Homo sapiens: one gene and its partners. The protein of the gene in region 2 purifies or fractionates together with the protein of the main gene of each other region. This does not show direct contact. Each region holds a gene or a part of one and is shown on either strand. Other genes may lie near its edges.

Evidence for each region.
Region 1: the proteins of HAUS2 (region 2) and TUBA4A purify together in Homo sapiens (affinity purification with mass spectrometry; 2 studies listed by BioGRID and IntAct, with this or other methods). This does not show direct contact.
Region 3: the proteins of HAUS2 (region 2) and HAUS5 purify together in Homo sapiens (affinity purification with mass spectrometry; 5 studies listed by BioGRID and IntAct, with this or other methods). This does not show direct contact.

The regions. Positions count from the first base shown.
Region 1 is NC_000002.12:219,250,887-219,258,851, reverse strand, and holds the start of TUBA4A (tubulin alpha-4A chain), read left to right. Parts: upstream 1-4,933; 5' UTR 4,934-4,993; coding exon 4,994-4,996; intron 4,997-5,432; coding exon of another isoform or gene 5,433-5,444; exon of another isoform or gene 5,445-5,609; intron 5,610-6,621; coding exon 6,622-6,844; intron 6,845-7,138; coding exon 7,139-7,287; intron 7,288-7,528; coding exon 7,529-7,965. Other genes in the region: TUBA4B (tubulin-like protein alpha-4B), read right to left, coding at 5,433-5,444. UniProt on the Homo sapiens protein: Tubulin is the major constituent of microtubules, a cylinder consisting of laterally associated linear protofilaments composed of alpha- and beta-tubulin heterodimers.
Region 2 is NC_000015.10:42,544,553-42,551,939, reverse strand, and holds the start of HAUS2 (HAUS augmin-like complex subunit 2), read right to left. Parts: upstream 3,103-7,387; 5' UTR 3,068-3,102; coding exon 2,975-3,067; intron 1-2,974. Other genes in the region: LRRC57 (leucine-rich repeat-containing protein 57), read left to right, coding at 3,506-3,589, 3,696-3,834, 4,411-4,679, 6,678-6,863.
Region 3 is NC_000019.10:35,608,503-35,615,740, reverse strand, and holds the start of HAUS5 (HAUS augmin-like complex subunit 5), read right to left. Parts: upstream 3,007-7,238; 5' UTR 2,947-3,006; coding exon 2,849-2,946; intron 2,012-2,848; coding exon 1,949-2,011; intron 1,874-1,948; coding exon 1,841-1,873; intron 1,707-1,840; coding exon 1,682-1,706; exon of another isoform or gene 1,607-1,681; intron 700-1,606; coding exon 594-699; intron 515-593; coding exon 355-514; intron 1-354.

The DNA of each region.
Region 1 (7,965 bases), on a different chromosome or scaffold from region 2:
CTTGTGTTCTGTGTCAGGGAGACACAGAGAGTGATGAGGACTGTGGCGAACTGGAGGGAGCTTGTTGCCCATCTTAAGATGGTAGCTTCCACATACCTCTATTGTTGTCGTATTATTTTCCTACTGTTACTGTAACAAATTGTAATAAAAATCATAGCTTAAAACAACACACATTTGTTATCTGCCAGGGCTGGAGTTCAGAAGTCCAAAATGAGCCAGGTGGGCTGGGCATGGTGAATCATGCCTGTAATCCCAGCACTCAGGGAGGCTGAGGCAGGCAGATCACTTGAGCTCACGAGTTCAAGACCAGCCTGGGCAACATGGTGAAACCCCATCTCTACTAATAATACAAAAAAAAAAAAAACTAGCCAGGCGTGGTGGTGCACACCTGTAGTCCCAACTACTCAGGAGACTGTGGTGGAAGGATGGCTAGAGGCCGGGAGGTGGAGGTTGCAGCGAGCCAAGATTGCGTCACTGCACTCCAGCCTGGGTGATAGAGCCAGACCTTGTGTCAAACAAAAACAAAAACAAACACAAAACAAAACAAAACAAACAAAATGAGGCCAGGTATGGTGGCACATGCCTGTAATCCTAGCACTTTGAGAGGCCAAGGCAGGTGGATTACCTGAGGTCAGGAGTTCGAGACCAGCCTGTCCAACATGGTGAAATCCTATCTCTACTAAAACTACAAAAATTAGCCAGGCATGCTGTGCACCTGTAATCCCAGCTACTCGGGACTTTGAGGCAGCAGAATCGCTTGAACCTGGTAGGTGGAGGTTGCATTGCACTGTGAGCTGAGATCACACTACTGCACTCCAGCCTGGGTGACACAGAGAGACTGTCTCAAAAAAAAAAAAAAAAAAAAAAACACCCAAAATGGGCCAGGTGACTCATGCCTGTAATCTCAGCAGTTTGGGAGGCCAAGGCAGGAGAAGAGCTTATGGCTAGGAGCTCTAGACCAGCTTGGGCAACACAGCAAGACCCCATATCTATAAAATATATATATATAGTGTGTGTATATATATATTTTTTTTTTGAGACAGTTTCGCTCTTGTTGCCCAGGCTGGAGTGCAATGGCACAATCTTGGCTCACCACAACTTCTGCCTCCCTGGTTCAAGCGATTCTCCTGCCTCAGCACTGCAATCCAGCCTGGGCAAGAGAGCAAGATCCTGTCTTCCTGTCTCTTTTTTTTTTTTTTTTTTTTTTTTTGAGACAGTGTCTCTCACTATTGCCCAGGCTGGAGTGCAATGGTGCAATCTTGGCTCACTGCAACATCTGCCTCCCAGGTTCACACGATTCTCCTGCCTCAGCCTCCTGAGTAGCTGGGATTACAGGTGCACACCACCATACCTGGCTAATTTTTTGTATTTTTGGTAGAGACGGGGTTTCACTATGTTGGTCAGGCTGGTCTTGAACTTCTGACCTCGTGATCCACCTGCCTCGGCCTCCCAAAGTGCTGGAATTACATGCCCGGCCAAGATCCTGCCTCAAAAAAAAAAAAAAAAAAAAAGGCTGGGCGCAGTGGCTCACACCTGTAGTCCCAGCATTTTGGGAGGCTGAGGTGGGTGGATCACGAGGTCAGGAGATCGAGACCATCCTGGCTAACACTGTGAAACCCCATCTCTACTAAAAATACAAAATTAGCCAGGAGTGGTGGGACATGCCTGTAGTCCCAGCTACTCGGGAGGCTGAGGCAGGAGAATTGCTTGAACCCGGGAGGTGGAGCTTGCAGTGAGCCGAGATCGCGCCACTGTACTCCAGCCTGGGCAACAGTGAGACTCCATCTTAAAAAAAAAAAAAAAAAAAAGCCAAAATGGGTCTTACAGAACTGAAATGAAGGTGTTGGCCAGGTTGCCTTCCTTCTGGAAATTCTAGGGGAGAATCTATTCCTCGACTTTTCCATCTTCTAGAGGCTGCCCATATTCTTTTACTCATGGCCCCTATCCCTCTTCAAAGCCAACAATCACATCATTCTGACCTCTACTTACTTTTGACCTCTTCTTTATTTTATAATTTTTATTTTTTGGTAGAGACAGGGTCTCACTATGTTGCCCAAGCTGGTCTCAAACTGCCGACCTCAAGTGATCCTCCCACCTCAGCCTCCTAAAGTGTTGGGATTACTGGCATGAGCACTGCACCAGGTCTGACCTCTTCTTTGACTCTGACCCTCCTGCCTCCTTCTTTCACTTATAAGGACCCTTGAAATTACACTGGGCCTACCTGGGATAATCCAGGATCATCTCCCTATCTCAAGATCTTTACCTTAATAACATCTTCAAAGTATTTTGCCATGTAAGGTAACAGTCACAGGTCCTGGAGATGAGGATGTGGACATCTTTATGGGGTAGCATTCTTCTGCCTACCATCTCTGAAGTGAAACAATTCTTCTGACACACACTTAGCAAATGCTTACCAGGTGTGCTAAGCACTATGCTAGGAGCTAGAAACAAAGATGAATAAGACACAGTCCTTACCTCCAATAGTTTGCTATCTATAATATTAAGATGGACATGTACACAAATAACTATAGCATGATGTGCTATATGCACTAAAATAAATGTCACAGCTACTTACACAGTGCCTTGATGTGAATATGTACATCTCTAAATTCATCTGATATTCACAATCTGAAGTTGTTATCCCGGTTTTACAAATGAAGAATCTGCACCTGAAGGTCAAAGAGGTTTAGAGTTTTTCCTAAGATAGCTCAAGTCTCTTACTATGTTCATTCTGCTAGGATAGGAGAGCACAAGGAAAAAGAGGTTCAGGGAGGGTCTGCAACCTACTGCCATGTGTCCTATAGTCACCACGGCTCCTTTCTTTGTAGGGACCATGACCTTATTCCCCAAAGAAGCCTCATTATACGCCCCTGTCAGTTTTCTTTTTATGAATGAGTCTTGTTCTCCCAATCAGATGGCAAGTCTACTGGGAAGAAAGACCTTGTCATATTTCACTATATTCCTTTCCATGCCTTGCCTATTTTGTTGATAGAGAGTTGCCATCACTAGTTCTTTCATGGTATTATGTTGTGTTGTCAGGTGATGGGGGAGGGAGGGGTGAATCCTTTCCAAGTGATGTAGAGCCAGGAAGACAGGTTTCTTAAGATCTGCAAACCAGCAGCACCTGGGGCACTGCCAGATGACTTTCCCCAGTGAAGGGAGACAATTAGAAAATGCAAGGCAGGCTGGGGTGGTTGCTCAGGCCTGTAATCCCAGCACTTTGGGAGGTTGAGGCGGGTGGATCGCTTGAGCTCAGGAGTTCAAGACAAATCTGGACAATATGGCGAGACCTTGTCTCTACTAAAAATACAAAAAATAAGGCCGGGTGTGGGGGCTCACACCTGTAATCCCAGCACTTTGGGAGGCTGAAGCAGGTGGATCATCTAAGGTCAGGAGTTGGAGACCAGCCTGACCAACATGGTGAAACCCCGTCTCTACTAAAAATACAAAAATCATCCAGGCATCCATGCCTGTAATCCCAGCTACTCCAGAGGCTGAGGCAGGAGAATCGCTAGAACCCGCGAGGCAGGTGTTGAGGTGAGCCGAAATCGTGCCATTGCACTCCAGCCTGGGCAACAAGAGCGAAACTCCATCTCAAAAATAGATAAATAAATAAAATAAGCTGGGCATGGTGTTGGTGCACGCCTGTGGTCTCAGCTACTGAGGAGGCTGAGGTGGAAGGATGAGGTAGAAGGATGGCCTTGAGCCGGGAGATGGAGGTTGCAATGAGCTGAGATTGCACCACTGCACTCTAGCCTGGGTGACACAGCAAGACACTGACTCAAAAGAGAGAGAGAGAGAGAGAAAGAGAAAGCAGAAGTAGCTTGAAAAGATGGGGTGGAGAGAACGGAATGAAATGTAGAAAGAAGGGCTTCTGCGGAGACCAGGGGCTGAGTGCTGAGACCATTAAGGTGCGGGTTGCAGATCCTGCTCTTGGGTTAGAGACAGAAGAGACCAAGAGTCAGAATCATCCAAGATATGAGAATCTCGATTTTCTTCTTTTCTCTTCAGAGGCAACAGACATTTTGATAGCTTACAACAATGTTTCCACTATGACATCACTGTCTCCTTTTCACCCACGAAAATGTCAAGGACTCAGTGAGGTTAAGTCACTTGCTCAAGGTCACACAGGGTAGCCTGGAGGAGAATCCAGGTCCTGAGGTCCCCCGGTCAGCGCTCCCGCAGTTCTGGCAGCAGGGGAGTGGGCAGGTGCCCTCAGCGAGGGCATCATAGTGACTGCGCTGATGACAGCGCCACTGACCCGCGGGCGGCCGGCGAGCCGCGGCAGATTCCGGGGTCGGCCCCGGCAGACAGGCTGCGGGGCTCGACTCTGCGGGAGCGCCTAAGGCATTGGCAATCTGGGGCTCAGGCTGTGCAGTTCTGGGTCCTCGGCCGCCCACAGGCGTCGGCGAAAGGCTGCCGCCCCGGCCGGGGACCAGGAAGCGTCAGGCAGCTGGCAAGGGCTCCCCGGGGACGCGCCACAGCCTCACAGCCGGCCCGAGTCTCCTGGGAGGCAGGGCTGGAAGGGCAGGGGTGAAGGCCAGCTGTGGCCGCTTGGGAAGGACCGCCTCGCCTGCTCCCGACCTAAGTCAGAACACCTGGATGACCGGTGCCTCCAGGACGCAGGTGCAGGTGAGACTCGCCCTGCCACAGCACCCTGCATCTCCGCGGAGGCCCTCGGGAGCCCAGCGTGTCTGCTCAAAACGAGGAAAGAATGGTTAAAGCCCGAATCGCGACTCTTAATCCCAGCGGGACAGGTGAGGGACCCCCGCGCAGCTTGGGGAGGGTACCAGGCCAGGCTCCGCCCCTCGGGGGGGCCGCTTACCCTCCCGGGAGGCGTGGCCTGCGGGCCGCCCAGCCTCTAGTGGGCGAGCGGGGAACGCGGGCCCCGCCCCCCCCCCGCCTATAAGGGCGGTGCGGCACTGCAGCTAGCGCAGTTCTCACTGAGACCTGTCACCCCGACTCAACGTGAGACGCACCGCCCGGACTCACCATGGTGAGTGCGGCCCGGCCGGGGTCGCGCCTGTCCCCTAATTGCCCCTCTCCTTTGGGGGACACTTCTTCCAGGCATGCTCGGGGACCTCCACCGGGCGTTCCGGGTCTCCAGGAGGTGCGAGGGTTTTGCATCCTCCCTCCCCAACCCCCTCCTGGTGACTTTGGCCGAGCCGTATAGTTCACCTTCGGTGGCTGGGGTTGGGGCTTGGGGTGGAGTGCGACTCTTCAGTAACAGAGAGGAACCCTTCCTGGCACTCTGCTCCTGCCTTACGAGCATTTGTGTCCCGACTCTGTATGAGAGTCACGCGGGCCCGCGCCCCGTCCTTTCCGCGGGCAAAAGAAGACGGGTTTGGCTGCCCTCTTACATCCCCAGTCCCTGGTCCTCAGCACTGACCGAGCACGTGCTTGGCGCTAGAAGGTGGAAGGGGTCAGGTTACCTGGTGCCGCATCCCCCTTTCCTCTGTGTATGCATTCCAACTATCCACAGAACCACCCCCCCCCCGTGACTCAGCACCCCGCGTCTGAGCTGAGAGGGTTGGTGGGAACGGGGTTCGGCCTCCTGAAGCGAGCTGGCCCTCTCCAGCCGAAGCCCGGGTGCGCGGATGGGCAGAGACAGCTGGCGCTGAGCACTGCGCGGGCCGAGGCCAGGTTGGGGGGAGGGGAGAGAGGTGCATGTAGGGGGTGGTATTTATAGCCCAGGAGCGGGGGCCGAAACCCAATCCCCGCTTTGGGCTGGGAAATAACTGTAAAGACTCCAGAGGGAGAGCGGATGTAGGGCTGGGCTGCAGGATGGCGCCCATCCTGCCCGGGACAAGGCGGGTCACCTCTGGGGCCTCACCGCAGGTTCCACTTCCTTTCTGGGTATTTGGAAACCGTCACCCCGCCATTTCGGTGTGGGAAGAGCGCGCGGGCCCTGCCGGACTTTAGTGCTTTAGGGGTTAATTTCGGGCTGACAGGGACGGAGCCTAAGGCAGTGAGCGCCCCAGTACCCTCAAACCTTATTGCTGGCCCCTGCTGTCTGAGCTTACAAGCATTACCGCCGCTATTTCCGTGCGGGCTGACACGGGAGATGAAAGTGGTGAAGACACCCAGGGTGCGGGGGTGGAGGTGGGGAGAGGAGCCAGATGGGATTGATCCCCAGAGCCAGATGGGATTTAAAGGTGAGGGAGGAGGGCATCCTGATGGCGTGTGGTCAGTTGATGCCAGATTGGATGGCTGAGACACCTCTGCAGCTTACAGGAAAGAAAGAGGGAAAGGGTTCTATGAATTCTAGCTGTTCATACTCAAAGCAAATAATTAATCAAGTGGGGGGGGGGCCTCTAGCTGTAAACCCATACCTCTAGGAAACCTTTTGTCATGTGGAGCCACAGTGCTCACTTGACAGATTCCCCACTGAGAAGTGGGCTAAGAGGTTGGCCTGCATTGCTGGGTGCCTCCAGGTGGGGAGTCCTGTACCTGGGAGCCCGGGCAGGCTGCTACTCTCTTCTCACCTCTGCCCAGCCCCAACCCTCCACTCTTGCCAACTGAGTCATCCTAGCTGGTAGATGATAGGGTGGAAGAGAGACTCGCAAGGTGAGGACTTGTGGATGTGGGGCTCATGCTGTGTCCCCTCTCTCTATCCCTCAGCGTGAATGCATCTCAGTCCACGTGGGGCAGGCAGGTGTCCAGATGGGCAATGCCTGCTGGGAGCTCTATTGCTTGGAACATGGGATTCAGCCTGATGGGCAGATGCCCAGTGACAAGACCATTGGTGGAGGGGACGACTCCTTCACCACCTTCTTCTGTGAAACTGGTGCTGGAAAACACGTACCCCGGGCAGTTTTTGTGGATCTGGAGCCTACGGTCATTGGTGAGAGGAAGTGGGGACAAAATTGAAGGGGGTGGAGCATGACTCAAAGCTTCTCCCTGGAGAGAGAGGGTATTTAGACCAGGCATTCCTAGCCCTGAAAATTCCTAGCCGTACTTGAAGCTGCAGAAGGCAAGCTGATCTGAGACTGGCCTGGGCAGCTGGTCTGGGTTTCTCTCACACTCTGGTATCTCAGGCTGGCAGGAGGATGAGTCCTTCCATGCATCTGGCCACAGCTACCACCCTGGGGGAGGAAGGTCCCTGCTGAGCATAGCTTTGTGGTTTTTGCCCTTCCAGATGAGATCCGAAATGGCCCATACCGACAGCTCTTCCACCCAGAGCAGCTCATCACTGGGAAAGAGGATGCTGCCAACAACTATGCCCGTGGTCACTATACCATTGGCAAGGAGATCATTGACCCAGTGCTGGATCGGATCCGCAAGCTGGTGAGAGTGTGTCTTGGGAGGGAGGGAACTTTTGAGACTGTGCTAATGGTCAGGAATATTTTTTTTCAGATCCTTTCAGGAGGTCATCTCTAACTATACATGGTCTCGAGTGTGGTGCTGCTATGGCATCCTCAGTATTTGCCCTGACTGCTGATGTATCTTACGCTTTATGGAGCCAGGTGATAGAGTCCCTCAGGCCCCTCCCCTACCTAAACTGTTCTTTCTCGTTCTTGCCTTTCAGTCTGACCAGTGCACAGGACTTCAGGGCTTCCTGGTGTTCCACAGCTTTGGTGGGGGCACTGGCTCTGGCTTCACCTCACTCCTGATGGAGCGGCTCTCTGTTGACTATGGCAAGAAATCCAAGCTGGAATTCTCCATCTACCCAGCCCCCCAGGTGTCTACAGCCGTGGTCGAGCCCTACAACTCTATCCTGACCACCCACACCACCCTGGAGCACTCAGACTGTGCCTTCATGGTGGACAACGAAGCAATCTATGACATCTGCCGCCGCAACCTAGACATCGAGCGCCCAACCTACACCAACCTCAATCGCCTCATTAGCCAAATTGTCTCCTCCATCACAGCTTCTCTGCGCTTTGACGGGGCCCTCAATGTGGACCTGACAGAGTTCCAGACCAACCTGGTGCCCTACCCTCGCATCCACTTCCCCCTGGCCAC
Region 2 (7,387 bases):
ATTGGGACTAGCTGTGTAGTAAGGTTGTCAGAAGTCTTAAGGAGCTATGGAGTGGGATCTTAAGGAGCTATGGAGTGGGACATGTTAACTGTAGGTAAAACCAGTAACTGTCTAATTAATGTTACTTGAGAGACAGTAGACACCCCCAAGACAACCACCACCCCCAAAAAAGAGTTCACCCATCAATGCCTGAAATTCTGTCACCAGTGCCTTACTCCTTTGGTTTAGGCATTTGTATTTCCTACCAATGCTCTTTAGAGGGATACCAAGTACCAAAAGTTGGGGGGTTGTTTTTTTTTGAGACAGGGTCTTACTGTGTCACCCAGGCTGGAGTGCAGTGGCACGATCTTTGCTCACTGCAATCTCCACCTCCAGGGCTCAAGCGATTCTCATGTCTCGGCTTCCCGAGTAGCTGGGATTACAGGCACCTACCACTATACCCGGCTGATTTTTGTATTTGTAGTAGAGACTGGGTTTCACCATGTTGGCCCAGCTGATCTCAAACTCCTGACCTCAGGTGATCCACCCGCCTCGGCCTCCCAAAGTGTTGGGATTACAGGAGTGAACCCTCAAAAATGTTTTCTATTATGAGTTTGCCAAACTATTTTGTGACAGGAGAACTGGACAATACAAGTGAGAGTACTAGGTAACCTGATAAGAAGAAAAAGGCTGGGTTCAGCTCCCAGTACTTTGGGAGGCCGAGACAGGCAGATCACCTGAGATCAGGAGTTTGAGACTACCCTGGCCAAAATGGTGAAACCCCGTCTCTACTGAAAATATGAAAATTAGCAGGTGTGATGGCAGGTGCCTGTAGTCCCAGCTACTCGGGAGCACGAGAATTGATTGAACCCAGGTGGCAGAGGGTACAGTGAGCCAAGATCACACCACTGCACTCCAGCCTGGGCAACAGAGGGAGACTATGTCTCAGAAAAAAAAAAAAAAGAAAAGAAAAGAAAAAGAAAATACAGGAGAGGGCCGGGTGCAGTGGCTCACGCCTGTAATCCCAGCACTTTGGGAGGCAGAGGCAGGCAGATCACGAGGTCAGGAGATCGAGACCATCCTGGCTAACATGGTGAAACCCCATTTCTACTAAAAATACAAAAATTAGCCGGGTGAGGTGGTGAGCACCTGTAGTCCCAGCTACTCATGAGGCTGAGGCAGGAGAATGGCATGAACCCAGGAGGTGGAGCTTGCAGTGAGCCAAGACTGTGCCACTGCACTCCAGCCTGGGCAACAGAGCGAGACTCCGTCTCAAAAAAAAAAGAAAACACAGGAGAGAAGGGAGGAAGGATTACACTGTAGAGTGCTGTGGTCACTCCTGGTAAAGTTAGTCAACTAGGACCACCTGAATCTCCCCATCACCCAGACAATGGGTGTTCAACAAAAGCTTAAAATCTTTTAATACAGTATCACAGCCTCTTATAACAGTTCATCTTGAGAGGGGATACAATGTGTCAAAAGGGAGAGTACTAAGATCTAATTCTCCTTTAACAGTCTAGTGACCATGGGCAAGTTTCTTGGTCTAAGCCTTAGTTTCTTAAATTAAAAAATACTGTAAGGTATTAGAGTCTCTAATGGCTCTTCTGACTATAAAAAGTTATGTATTTTCCGTAAATCTTCCATCATGTTTGTAGTGCTTTTTTTTTTTTTTTTTTCCCTGAGACAGGGTCTCACTCTGTCGCCCAGGCTAAGTGCAGTGGCCCGATCGCATCTCACTGCAACCTCCATCTCTTAAGCTCAAGCCATCTTCCCATCTGAGCCTCCAGGACCCATGTGGTCCGCGGAGTAGTTGGGACTACAGGTGTACGCCACCATGCCGGCTAATATGTGCTGATTTTTACAGATCAGTTTAACTTTTCTGTTTTCTTTTTAGTGAAATTTCTCAACTTCCTCTATATATCAAAATTTATTTCCCCATTTTTCTCAATGCCCTTGATCCCACTTGCCCCATGCCCTCCTGTCACTGCATTCCATTATTTCCTCACATGTTCAATTTCTCCCTCTGTTGGCTCCTTCCTCCGACATGCTCCTCTTGCCCAACCTAAAACTGCCACTCCGTGACTCCTTGGGTTAATGTCTCTTTTCTCTCCTTCTCAAAATTAATCTCTTCCTCCATTCACGTTCCAAGGTCTTATCTTTTTAGCCAATACTTTTTTTTTTTTTTTTTTTTTTTTGCCTTTAAAGATGCCAAGGCCGGGCGCGGTGGCTCACGCCTGTAATCCCAGCACTTTGGGAGGCCGAGGCGGGTGGATCACGAGGTCAGGAGATCGGGACCATCCTGGCTTACAAGGTGAAACCCCGTCTCTACTAAACATACAAAAAAAAATTAGCTGGGTGTGGTGGTGGGCGCCTGTAGTCCCAGCTACTCCAGAGGCTGAGGCAGGAGAATCGCTTGAACCAGGAAGGCGGAGGTTGCAGTGAGCCGAGACCACGCCACTGCACTCCAGCCTGGGCGTTAGAGCGAGACTCTGTCTCATATAAATAAATAAATAAATAATAAAATAAAATAAAAATGTCAAAAAAGAGCTTCTGGCGCTCTTCTCTACCCAGCACCTCCCGCCCCAAATACGATTCAACACTTCCCACAAACGAGGGTTGTTGGAAATGCTTGTTCCGCAAGGGGACAGAACGACCCGTATTTCCCATCCCCGCCCTTACACTACAGTCTAGAGGCAGTATCACTGGATGAAAAAAAGGCTGGTAACAGTCTAATCTCCCACAAACTGGACTGGGACAAATTTACCCTACAGACACTCAAAACACAGTCTACCCTAAACACCATCTACTCAGATCCCCGCTTTCCAAGCATCCACGGCAGAACGTTCGCGGCTGTTGCCTGGAAGGGGCTCTTATTACTCTAGTACAGACCCCAACCAGGACCCTCACCACTCCCACAGCCAGCAGCACCAACTCACAGCCATATTGTTGCCACCTTGGGCACCCCCTTGATGACACCACCGCCACCCCCACGTACCTGATTGACCATCCCCGAAGCTATGAAGTGGCCTAGCACTAGCCCAGCGCCGTTAGGCGCGGACGCCGGGTCCCACGGGTTGGCAGCGGCCATGGCTCGGACGCACCTTCCGCGAAGGCGCCAAGAGTGAGCGGGATCGCAGGGCGAACGCACGGCGCGGCTCGATGACGTCACAGGGCGTTCCCGCCCGGGACTAAGCCGGGGAGCGCATCCCGGCTACTGCGGGTCCTGGGTCTTCACCTGCGGAGCCTTACGGCAGCTGAGCGGTGGGAGGCGAGTCCGGGGCTCCCTGATCTTCCGTAGGCTCCCAGAGGCGCCTGGCCTCCGCAGAGCTGCAAAGGCGGCAGGGCTTGGTGGTCGGGCTGTGTGTTCTTCCGTTTCTTCCTTGTCGCTCTTGGGTCGGGCCCCAGGAGCCAGGGATCGGCGGGAGTTGAGAGCTGGGGCAGGAGCCCCAGCCGGGAGGCCGACCGGGTGGACTGGGCGGTGACAGCAGCGCTTCCTTCCCGCAGGGACCTGAGCCGCGGCGCTAGGATGGGAAACAGTGCGCTCCGCGCTCATGTGGAAACGGCGCAGAAAACTGGTGTCTTTCAGCTTAAGGACCGAGGGCTGACCGAGGTGAGACTGGGAGGGACACGACCAGGGAACTTAAAGGGAGAGGGACGGCGGGGGCGGCGAACTTAGTCGGTGCGGGATTCCCCACGCTGTGAACTCCTTTCTCCAGTTCCCCGCAGACTTGCAGAAGCTGACGAGCAATCTCAGGACCATCGACTTGTCCAACAACAAGATCGAAAGCCTACCGCCTTTGCTGATAGGAAAGTTCACTCTGCTGAAGAGCCTCTCCCTGAACAACAACAAACTGAGTATGGCTCTCGCCAGGGAGGCTTTTGCTAGTGATCAGCTGTTACCAGGGGTGGTTTTCTCTTACAAGCTGATTTTTGTTTTTGTTATGAAACCGTGCAGGAGGGCTCAAGTTGCGAATGCCGGAATCCTTGAAGCCTTCTTTCTACTTCTTGTAATTACATCTAAAATAAGCCTTATAATGATTGGGTGTTATAATGATTGTTACTGGGTTAATTTGGACTTGAAAGAGAAGAACATTTTGGGGATGTAATGTAAACAAAGCTACCTAACTTGGAATGGGGGATGGATGAGAAGGGGAGGATCTTCCAAATATCACAAAATTGCTGTCGGATTGTGCCTTGGGCCCCTTTACAAAAGGAGCCCATTATACACACAAATGCTCTCCGGCATTTTGATGGCACCCTCACCTTCTAAAGACTATGTTGGTAAAATGCAATATCTAAAAATGGCACATGTGGGAGTTTTACATATATTAACAAGAGGCGAAGCAGGCTGCCATATAGTCTTTATAAACTTCATCAAAGTTGTTTTCAGCTCTATCACATTCAGGTTTTAAAAAAATTTTTCTTTGCCAGCTGTTCTGCCTGATGAGATATGCAATCTGAAAAAACTAGAGACGCTAAGCCTAAACAACAATCACCTTAGAGAGCTGCCGTCTACCTTTGGGCAACTCTCTGCCCTCAAGACCCTGAGCCTCTCTGGGAACCAACTGGGAGCATTACCTCCCCAACTTTGTAGCCTACGGCACCTGGATGTGATGGATCTCTCTAAGAACCAGATTCGAAGTATACCTGACTCAGTGGGAGAGCTGCAAGTCATCGAACTCAACCTCAACCAGAATCAGGTCTAGAGCTTTAAGGTTTTTTTTCCTACAGCATATGTGTGGCTTTAAGGTCTCCTGATACCTGTTAACCTCTTGTTTCCTAAACTGCCATCATAGAGCTAAGTATCAGAGGCTAAATGAGAGGTTTCTTCTATAGGCTGAACTAATTTCAAGGCCCAAAGTGCCATGGAATTAGTTGAGACACTGGATGTGTTAGTTGTGTAGGTGTTTTGGGGAGGGTGGGGTAGGTAACAGGGAGAGATCATTTCAAAAGTTAAACTACTGTCTCACAAATCTTGAAGACTTCTTCAGATCCTCCTCAAATATATGCCCCTAACCAGCTAGCCAGGAGCTATGTCAGGGATATAATGTGGAAATGAGGCCTAAACTGAGGTTCTCAGAGTCGGGAGTCAGAGGTAATTCAGTTTTGTTTTTCGTTTTGTGTGGGGTTTTGACATCTTTGTTACAAAGTGTGTCTCCTTTTGCTGAAGAATATTAAGTGATAGGCTTTCTGGAGATAGCCCATTTCACTGTTGTACAGCTTTAATTATAATATTTGAAATTTGTTTCCATTACTTTGGAAGCTTTCAATTAATATTTGTCTGGAAAACCAATCCAAAGATTCTTGTCTAGGCATGAAGGCACAAGTGATGAAATATTAAACACTGTGAGACTGGATGGCCTTTAGTTTTCTAGTGTCTGTATTTCTAGATCTGCATGGTCCATTAAAGTGGCCAGAAGCTGCATGTGGTTATTACTTTTCTAGATTGTAGTGATTTTACATCATGATGAAATTCAGTCTGTCTTTGAGGAATTGGCCTCATGTTTTTTTACCTTAAGTGGATATTCTTGTATGTTATAGAGCTTCTTGGGGGAAAAAAAAAACTGAATCAATTAAGCAGCAAGTATTAGTTGAGGATTTGCTCCACATTCACCTCTGCCAGTACCTTTATTCAGTGGTTCTCTAAGTTTAGTATGCATCAGAATTAACCAGAAAAGCTTGTTTAAAGAGATCACTAGCCCCCTACCCTCAGTGTTTCTGATCCAGTAGGGCTGGGATGAGGTCTGAGAACTTGCATTGCTAGTTATTGAACTTATTAAAGTTCCCATGATTTCTAATAAGTGATGGTCTGAGATGATACTGGGCAGAATCAAATAATTTGGTGACTTTTAGTATTTAAATGGCAAAAGGGGTGAGTCAAAGACAATTGCTTGGTATTGAGCTTGAGGGCCTAAAGGAACAGTAGTGCTATTGAGAATGGACATGCTGAGTTGTCTGTGGTGAATCTTGTAAATGGAAATATCTTACTGAAAGTTGGAAACGTGGGAGCAGAATAGAGGTAAGAGTATAGATACAGATCTTGAGGTCATAACAAAAGTGATGGACTTTAATGAATGAGCTTTCTAGAAGAAGTTTAGAGAGAAGATGACATATGAAGTATTACAGACAGCTACTTGAAAAATGCCCATAAAAACAAGAGAAGTAAGGAAGAATCCAAAAGATAGGAAGAAAAACCAAAAAAGGACAAAAATAAGGGGTTTTAAGGAAGGGATAGATAGTACAGTTAAATGCAGTAGGGACTGAGGACAATGGATCCTTGAATTTGGTAGTAAAGTGGTCAGTATCTATGTACACATAAAACATTGGCAGTAAATGTACCAAAATGTTTATGGTGGTTATTTCTGGGTGGTGGATTCCAGGTAAACTTTTTTCTTTAAACCTGTGATTCTCAAATTTTCTATAATGAACATACAGTGCTTTTATCATCAGAAAATTTTGTTCCCAAAAAGCCATGGGTGACCTTCATAAAAGCATTTTTTTTAAGTGGGGGCGTAGTAACAGAAGCTAGATAACAGAGGCTTCTGGAGTGAGTAGGCAGTGAGAAAATGGAGGTGGTAAAAGAGGGGAAAACTAGAACAAATAGTCAAGTAAAGATTTTTGTTTTGTTTTAATGTACTAAAAGTAACCAGTATAGTGCTTATGCTTTTTCCTGTTATTCTTTTGTGGTTTTTCAATAGATATCTCAGATCTCAGTGAAGATATCTTGCTGTCCACGCCTTAAAATTCTTCGCCTGGAAGAGAATTGTCTTGAGCTCAGCATGCTTCCCCAGAGCATCCTCAGTGATTCCCAGATCTGTCTGCTTGCTGTGGAAGGCAATCTTTTTGAAATAAAGAAACTTCGAGAACTGGAAGGCTATGATAAGGTATGAATTAATGTACTTCTGCATTTCTAGTCACTACCCCAGAGAAGACAATGGTGAAGTAATCCACAGAAATGTTTATAGCTCATGTCAACAGGATTTGTTCTTCCCCATTTTGGAAGTAGATTCAAAGCATTGGCTGAATGGTATTGTACCAAGATGACTTTTTCTCTATAGACAGCTTATTGTAAAGCATCTTTGTCTTCATCTTTGTCTTTTGATATATATATATATATAGTGTGTGTGTGTGTGTGTGTGTGTGTGAGACAGGGTCTCACTCTGTCGCCCAGGCTGGAGTGCAGTGGCGCAATCTCAGCTCACTGGCGCAGCCTTCACCTCCTGGGCTCAAGCGATTCTCATCCCTCAGCCCCCCTAGTAGCTGGGATCACAGTCGTGTGCCAGTATGCCTTGCTAACTTTTGCAGGGATGGGGTTTTGCCTTGTTCGCCAAGCTGGTCTCAAACTCCTGGGCTGAAGTGATCTGCCCGCCGCAGCCTCCCAAGGTGCTGGGATTACAGGTGTAAGCCA
Region 3 (7,238 bases), on a different chromosome or scaffold from region 2:
TCTATGATAGGCTTTTCTTCACAGCACTCATCTCTACCAGAAATGATAGGGTCTGTTTGGTTCCTACTTTACTATCTGTCTTCTCTGTGTCACAGCATAAGCTCCAGGAGGGCAGGGACATGTTCTCTGTTTGTGGCTGTTTCCCCAGGGCTGGTGTTCTAGGTATACAGGTGGTATCATTCTAGGCACTGAAAATACAGGTGACTGAGATGACAAAACCTCCTGGCCTCATGGACATTCCATCCTAATGGTTCCAGAATTCTGGAACCCAAGAAGGGATCAGGGCAGAGCCCTGAGGTCTCTAAGAGAATGTCTGGCCACCCAGCCTGGTGAGGGTGGGTCCCTGAGGCCCACCTCTCCATGTCCTGCAGGCGCCTCAGTTGATTCTGCAGCCGCTGCATGGGATCTCGGAGCGTATGCTGCTGTCTTCGCATGGCCCCAGCTTGGGCCCGGAGGAGGAGAGCTCGACGCTGGGTGTCTTGAGTGTGCTGACGTGCCTGCTCCATGGCCGTGTCTGTGGGAGGAACAGGGGTGGCCATCAGCACCTTTCCCGCCCCACATTCTGGTGCCCATCTTCTGGCCCCATGGCTCACCCTGAGCCTCAGTGTCTCGCTCCATCAGCTCCAGGCTCTGGTCGAGTTCCTGGATTTCTGCCCGCAGGCGGGTCACAGCAGCTTCCAGCTCTAACTTCCGACGGACCTGGGAGGATCAGATTCAGGGTCAGATGGTCTGATCGGGGCTCAGCCTGGCCTGTCTTTTGGGGGTACCAGGCTCCTCAACTGGTGGCAGAGGGTTTTTGCTCAGCAGTTTCTGTGTCTGACACAGAAGCATTAGGGTATTGGCTCCCTCCCTCCTTCCTCCTAGGATTGTCTTACCCACACTTCCAGCCTGTTTCCTGTCTGTGCTGGTGACAACCACATCTTTGTCCCAGTACTGATCTCTTCCCGGAGCCCTGCACCTAGAAGTCCCAAGGCCTCCTGGAAGCCTCCCCTTAGGTGTCATATGAGCCCCTTGCACCCATTGGGTCCCACACTGGCCTCAGCATCTCTCCCATACCTGTCCCATCATCTCTTCTCACCAGCTTTGATGCCACATATCCAGGTCCCACCTCTCTGCGCCCAGCTAATTAATGCTCTTTATTTATTTTTTCTTTTTTTGAGATAGAGTCTCGCTCTATTGCCCAGGCTGGAGTGCAGTAGTGCGATCTCAGCTCACTGCAACCTCTGCCTCCCAGGTTCAAGCGATTCTCCTGCCTCAGCCTCCCAAGTAGCTAGGATTACAGGCGTGTGCCACCACGCCTGGCTAATTTTTTATTTTTATTAGAGACAGGGCTTCACCGTGTTGGCCAGGCTGGTCTCGAACTCCTGACCTCAGGTGATCCGCCTCCCAAACCACATCTTTGTCCCAGTACTGATCGCTTCCTGGAGCCCTCAGGTGATCTCATCACCTGAGATGAGGCCTCAGGTGAGCCTCCCAAAGTGCTGGGATTACAGGTGTGAGCCACTGCACCTGGCTGAGCTAATGCTGTTTCCACTGGACTTTAAGCCCTATGAGGATGGAGATCAAGGCTGTCTTGTGACCCATTGTCCCCAGCATCACCCAGCACCTGGTTGGGCTTAGAGCAGAAGATCTACAAGTCATTTTTCGGATGAAAGAGAATCTTGTAGCATATGCTTCTCACCTGTGGACTGTCCTGGTGGCCATACCTAGGAAAACGAGGCCAGAGTCAGCGGATGAGTGGGGCTTCTAGGGGGGAGGGCAATAGGTGTGATGCTGTGGTGGGGACAGGGCTAAATGGGAGTGGGGAAGACAGGAGGGGATAGCTTTAAGAAGCAGTTACCAGAGTAGGTTTCCCCGGATCTTCTTGACAGTCCTACAGTGCAGAGGCAGAAAGAGGAGTTACTATGGGCCTCACCTGTGCCCCCTCCCCTGCTCTAGCCCAGCTTACCTCTGACTGTGCACATGCTGCAAGATGTAGGCCCAGATGTCAGCCCCCTGGCCCAGACACAGCCTGTGGGGACAGTGTGTAAGCATATGCCTGGGGCAGCACACAGGGTGTGGGATCCTCATTCCTAGGGTGATGGTGGTAGGGAGTTTTTACTAGGGAGTTCTCACTTCTTGAGGAGGGAAGGCCCAAACTTTTTTTTGCCTTTTTTTTTTTTTTTTTTTTAAGAGACAGTCTCGCTCTGTCGCAGTGGTACGATCATAGCTCCTTGCAGCCTCAACCTCCTGGGCTCATGCGATCCTCCCACCTCAGCCTCCAGAGTAGCTAGGACTACAGGCAGGCACCACTACACCCGGCTAATTGGTAAAACATTTTTTTTGTAGGGACTGGATGTTTGCACTAAGTGTGGTGTTATTCTCATTCCCTGGGAAGGCGGGTGGTGGGGGAGCGCGGGAGAGGCGGGTGCTCCCTTTCTCCTGGGAGTGGGTTATCCCAGTCACATCCAGAGGTGGAGGTGGGGGATGTACTGCCAGGAAGTGCCATCTCATGACCAGACGTGGGGCATCACTCCTACAGCTTCAATCCCCGATGGGGTGGCCACGGCTAACTCCTGAGTGTCCTTCTTGGTTAGGTTAAGGGAGGGAGGGGAGGTGCTGCGGGGACAGCCTCACTCTGGAGATCCTATTTCCATAAGGAGCGAGGTCTTAGCTAACTCGTGGAGGATCCTCACCAGTGCTAGGGACCTCACTCTGGGGAGCCTCCCAGGGTAGGGAGCCCTCAGTAAGTCGGGTCACTCTCGATGGGGAATTGGGGGGAGTCGAGTCCTCAATGAGGGGTGGAGTTCTCACTCCCGGAGACTCAATCTCCAGGGTGGGGTGTCCTCACTCCAGGAGCGGTCCTCACCTGCGCAGCGTCGATTCCGGGGCCCGGGCCGCCACGGGCACCCCCATCTCTTCGACCGCCCAGCAACCCAGTTCCCGCGCTTCCTGCGCTAGCTCCATGACAGCGCCGCGGCGGCGACACCGCCTCCCTCAGCCTCTTCAAGTGTGGCGCCCGCCTCTGACGTCACGGGCGCGCCAACAGTGACGTCATCGGTTGCCGGGCAGACAGCGGGCTCGGGCGCTGCATAGTAATCTTAGCGCGGTCAGGCTGGGTCTTGCAGCGCTCACTCTTCCCAGGTAGGTCTCCTTGAGTGGAAATGAAAAGGGCGTGGAGAGACTGCAGCCCCGCCCGCCTTCCCTCGTTCTCCCGCTCACTACCAGCTAACCCGAAAGAGGCAAAACAGTCCTTGATGCTTCCATTTATTTTCTTTTTCTTCTTTTAACTAAACACTTTTATTTTAATAGAGATGGGATCTCACTTGTTGCCCAGGCTAGTCTCAGCTTCTGGGCTCTTGAACTCCTGGGCTCAAGCGATCCTCCCGCCTCGGCCTCCCAAAATGTTGGGATTACAGGCGTGAGCCACCACGCTCACCCCCTTTATTTTCTTGACAAAATGGGACTTGCGTCCTAGGAGGACTGGAACCAGGCAATGAGATCCTGGACTTACTGCTCTTTGATTTCAGAAACAGGTGTCTCATGTCTGAGTGGAGGGTAGGGGCAGAGAGCATGACCCTAACATTTCCCTGGCATGCGTTTTCCCATTCATTCGTGCTTACCATTCCATAAACTCAGGGAGCTGACCCTGTGCTGGGTGATGCTGGGGACACCATGGTGACCACAACAGCCCTGGTCCCTATTGTACGGAGCTCACAGTTGAGTGGGGAGACAGACGCACCACCAGGTAGGGGTGGTAAAAATAAGCAGCAGGGGTGGGTCAATTTGGGACACAGCAGGTGTGAGAGGTCTGCGCTAGACCAGCAGTCCCCAACCTTTTGAGCATCAGGGACTGGTTTCATGGAAGACAATTTTTCCACAGTCTGGGGGATGGAGGGTGGGAGCAGTGGATGGTTTCGGGATGAAACTGTTCCACTTCAGGTCGTGAGGCATTATATTCTCTGTCTCTCTCTCTCTTTTTTTTTTTCTTCCCTGTTTTTTTTTTTGAGGTGAAGTCTCCCTCTTTCACCCAGGCTGGAGTGCAGTGGCCCGATCTCGGCTCAGCGCAATCTTTGCCTCCGGGGTTCAAGCGATTCTACTGCCTCAGCCTCCTGAGTAGCTGGGATTACAGGCGCCCGCTACCATGCCCAGCTAATTTTTGTATTTTTAGTAGAGACGGGGTTTCACCATGTTGGCCAGGCTGGTCTTGAACTCCTGACCTTAAGTGATCAGCCCATCTCAGCCTCCCAAAGTGCTAGCATTACAGGTGTGAGCCACCATGCCCCGCCTAAGCATTAGATTCTCATAAGGAGTGCGCAATCTAGATCCTTCGTATGCACAGTTCACAATAGGGTTTGCGCTCCTGTAAGAATCTAATGCCGCTCCTGATCTGGCAGGAGGTGGAGCTCAGGCAGTGATGCTCACCCATACGCCACTCACCTCCTGCTGTGCAGCCTGGTTTCTAACAGGCCATGGACTTGTATTGGTTCACGGCTTGGGGTTTGGAGACCCCTGCCCCTGCCCTAGATGAAATACTTCTCTGATGCTGACTAACCAACCATGCTTAAAAGCAAGGCCCGAAAGGATCAAGCTATTATTTAGCTGCATTCCAGAACAAAATTCAAGAATATTTATAGAGATTAAAAAAAATCCAGCATCCAACACTGTAAAATTAACAATATCTGACATCAGTAAAAAATTATAAGGCAATGGCTGGGCGTGGTGGCTCATGCCTGTAATCCCAGCACTTCGGGCGGTTGAGGTGGGAGGAATGTTTGAGGCTAGGAATTTGAGACCCACCTGGGCACCACAGCAAAACCTTGTCTCTATTAAAAATTAAAAAAAATTAGCCAGGCGTGGTGGTGCACGCTTGTAGTCCCATCTACTTGGGGGGTTGAAACAGGAGGATCAGTTGAGCCTGGGAGGTTGAGGCTTCAGTGAGCTATGATGGCACCACTGCACTCCAGCCTGGGTGACCCTGTCTCAAAGCCAAAACAAAACCAAACCAAAATAAAATAATCATCTGTATTCATGTTTCATAATATCCTCAATGGGTTTGTGCCTTTTTGGTACAGCTGTCAAGCAGCTCAAGAAAGTCGTGGGCTTTATCCGCTTAATGTAAGTGGCCGCTCTTGACTCTGGTTCCCAGGAAGACCTTCAACCTGGCCCCAGCCAAAAAGGCTACAAGCTGGCCCCCAAGAACTCACACAGCTTTTCCCAGTTCAGATGGCCCCAGGATAGCATGCCCACCAGCTTCCAGGAATCACTGTGGTTACTGTGCCCAGGTGCCTGAACCTCACAGTGCTGTGCATGGGGAGAAGCCTCTGCTGGGTGCTGACCTACCAGACAAGGATGGGCCAATTTAGGTAAATGGGAATGAGGAAGGAATGCCCGGCCCCAGAAAACCTCCCTCGAAGTTCAGATGACCATAGGAAACTCCCTGATAATGCAACTGCTGTGACTGTCACCTGCGTCTCAGTAGCTCACTGCAGGCACCTGGTCTCACTTCCTCCAGTCTGGCACAGCTTGTTACATCACCCAAGACAATGAAGGAAAAAGTGACCCCTTCAGAGGAAGGCCCTGAGCACTTAGGGTGCTTTCTGCCCCAGGGACCCAGGGTGAATCCCACGAAAGCCAGTTGTCTGGTTAGTGGTAACAGCACAGTGCAGGTGGACAGTCCCAATGTCCCATTGTTATGCTGGTGCTCAGCAGATGGTGAAGAACCTCCAGGCATGCCCCACAGCGGTCCCTGCTGCCTGCTTCCTGGCTGGGGTAGGACACACCCCTGTGACTTCCTTTCCTGCTATGTCTCTGCCCATCCTGCCCCAAACACACATGTAGATATGACCGGGTCTCAGACTGCAAAGTCAAGAGAGAGGAGGAAGTTCTCAGTAACATGCAAGGCGTGCCCTACCGCCATGATTTGGAAAGTTTCACCAGTCTCTGCTTTGAGAAGACTTGATCTGTCCCTGTGATTTGGTCACAATTGCCTTTGGACTGAGACACCACCAAAGGACAATGGATGGCCTGCACCCCCAGGAGCAGTCACCCGGGGTGCCTGTCTGGGCAAGTCTCATTCTCATTGCTACCTGGGCTTTCTCGTTTGTTTGTTTGTTTGTTTGTGAGATGGGACCTCACTCTGTTGCCCAGGCTGGAGCCATGGCCCGATCACGGCTCATCACATGCTGGAACTCCTGGGCTTAAGTGATCCTCCTGCCTCAGCCTCCTTAGTAGCTGGGACTTGAGCCAATTCTCCCAGCTAGATTTTTTTCAGTTTTAATTTTTTGTAGAGACGGGGTCTCGCTATGTGGCCCAGGCTGGTCTCAAACTCCTGGCCTCAAGCAGTCCTCTCACCTTGGCCTCCCAAAGCACTGAGATTACAGGCATGAGCCATTATACCTGGCCACTTTCTGCTTTTATTTATTTATTTTTTTTGTGACAGAGTCTCCCTCTGTCGCCCAGGCTGGAGTGCAGTGGCACAATCTCGGCTCACTGCAACCTCTACCTCTTGGGTTCAAGCAATTCTCTGCCTCAGCCTCCCAAGTAGCTAGGATTACAGGCATGCACCATCATACCCGGCTAATTTTTGTATTTTTAGTAGAGACGGGGTTTCACCATGTTGGCCAGGCTGGTCTCAAACTCCTGACCTCAAGTGATCCACTTGCCTCAGCCTCCCAAAGTGCTGGGATTACAGGTGTGAGCCACTGCACCTGGCCTCACTTTCTGCTTCTTATGCTCAATGTCTCCTTGTTTTGGAGACATGTCACCATTTGTCCTTTTCTTGGTTCCTTTCTCATGGTATCTGTTCTGTTGGCCTTGGTGGGAGGTACTGGTGCCTTCCTGCTTTCTTAGATCCTGAAGGAGCAGAGCCCCTGTGGCCTCTTGGTCTTCTTCTGTCAGCATCTCTCTCCCTTTGCTTTATCTGAAATCTCTTTTCTGTTTTTCTGGATAATTTCAGGATGCTTTTTGGAACCCATCCACCATCTGAGAGATAATAAGAAGCTTCTCTAGGACTTGTGATTTTGGTTTCAGCAGCTCCTTCCACGTTTGAGAAGAGTCTTCTCATTTCTTACTCATAGAACATCCCATCAGACATTTCTCCTGATCCACATAGTAATTCAGGGATCCAGGCTTCTTCCATAAGGTGATTCAACCATCTTCTATGGGCTCAGAGTCTTTTGAATCCAGGCAGAAGAGAGAATAAGGAACTCGCACCTGCTTCTTGAAAGTCTTCACCCTAAAGTGACATACATCACTTC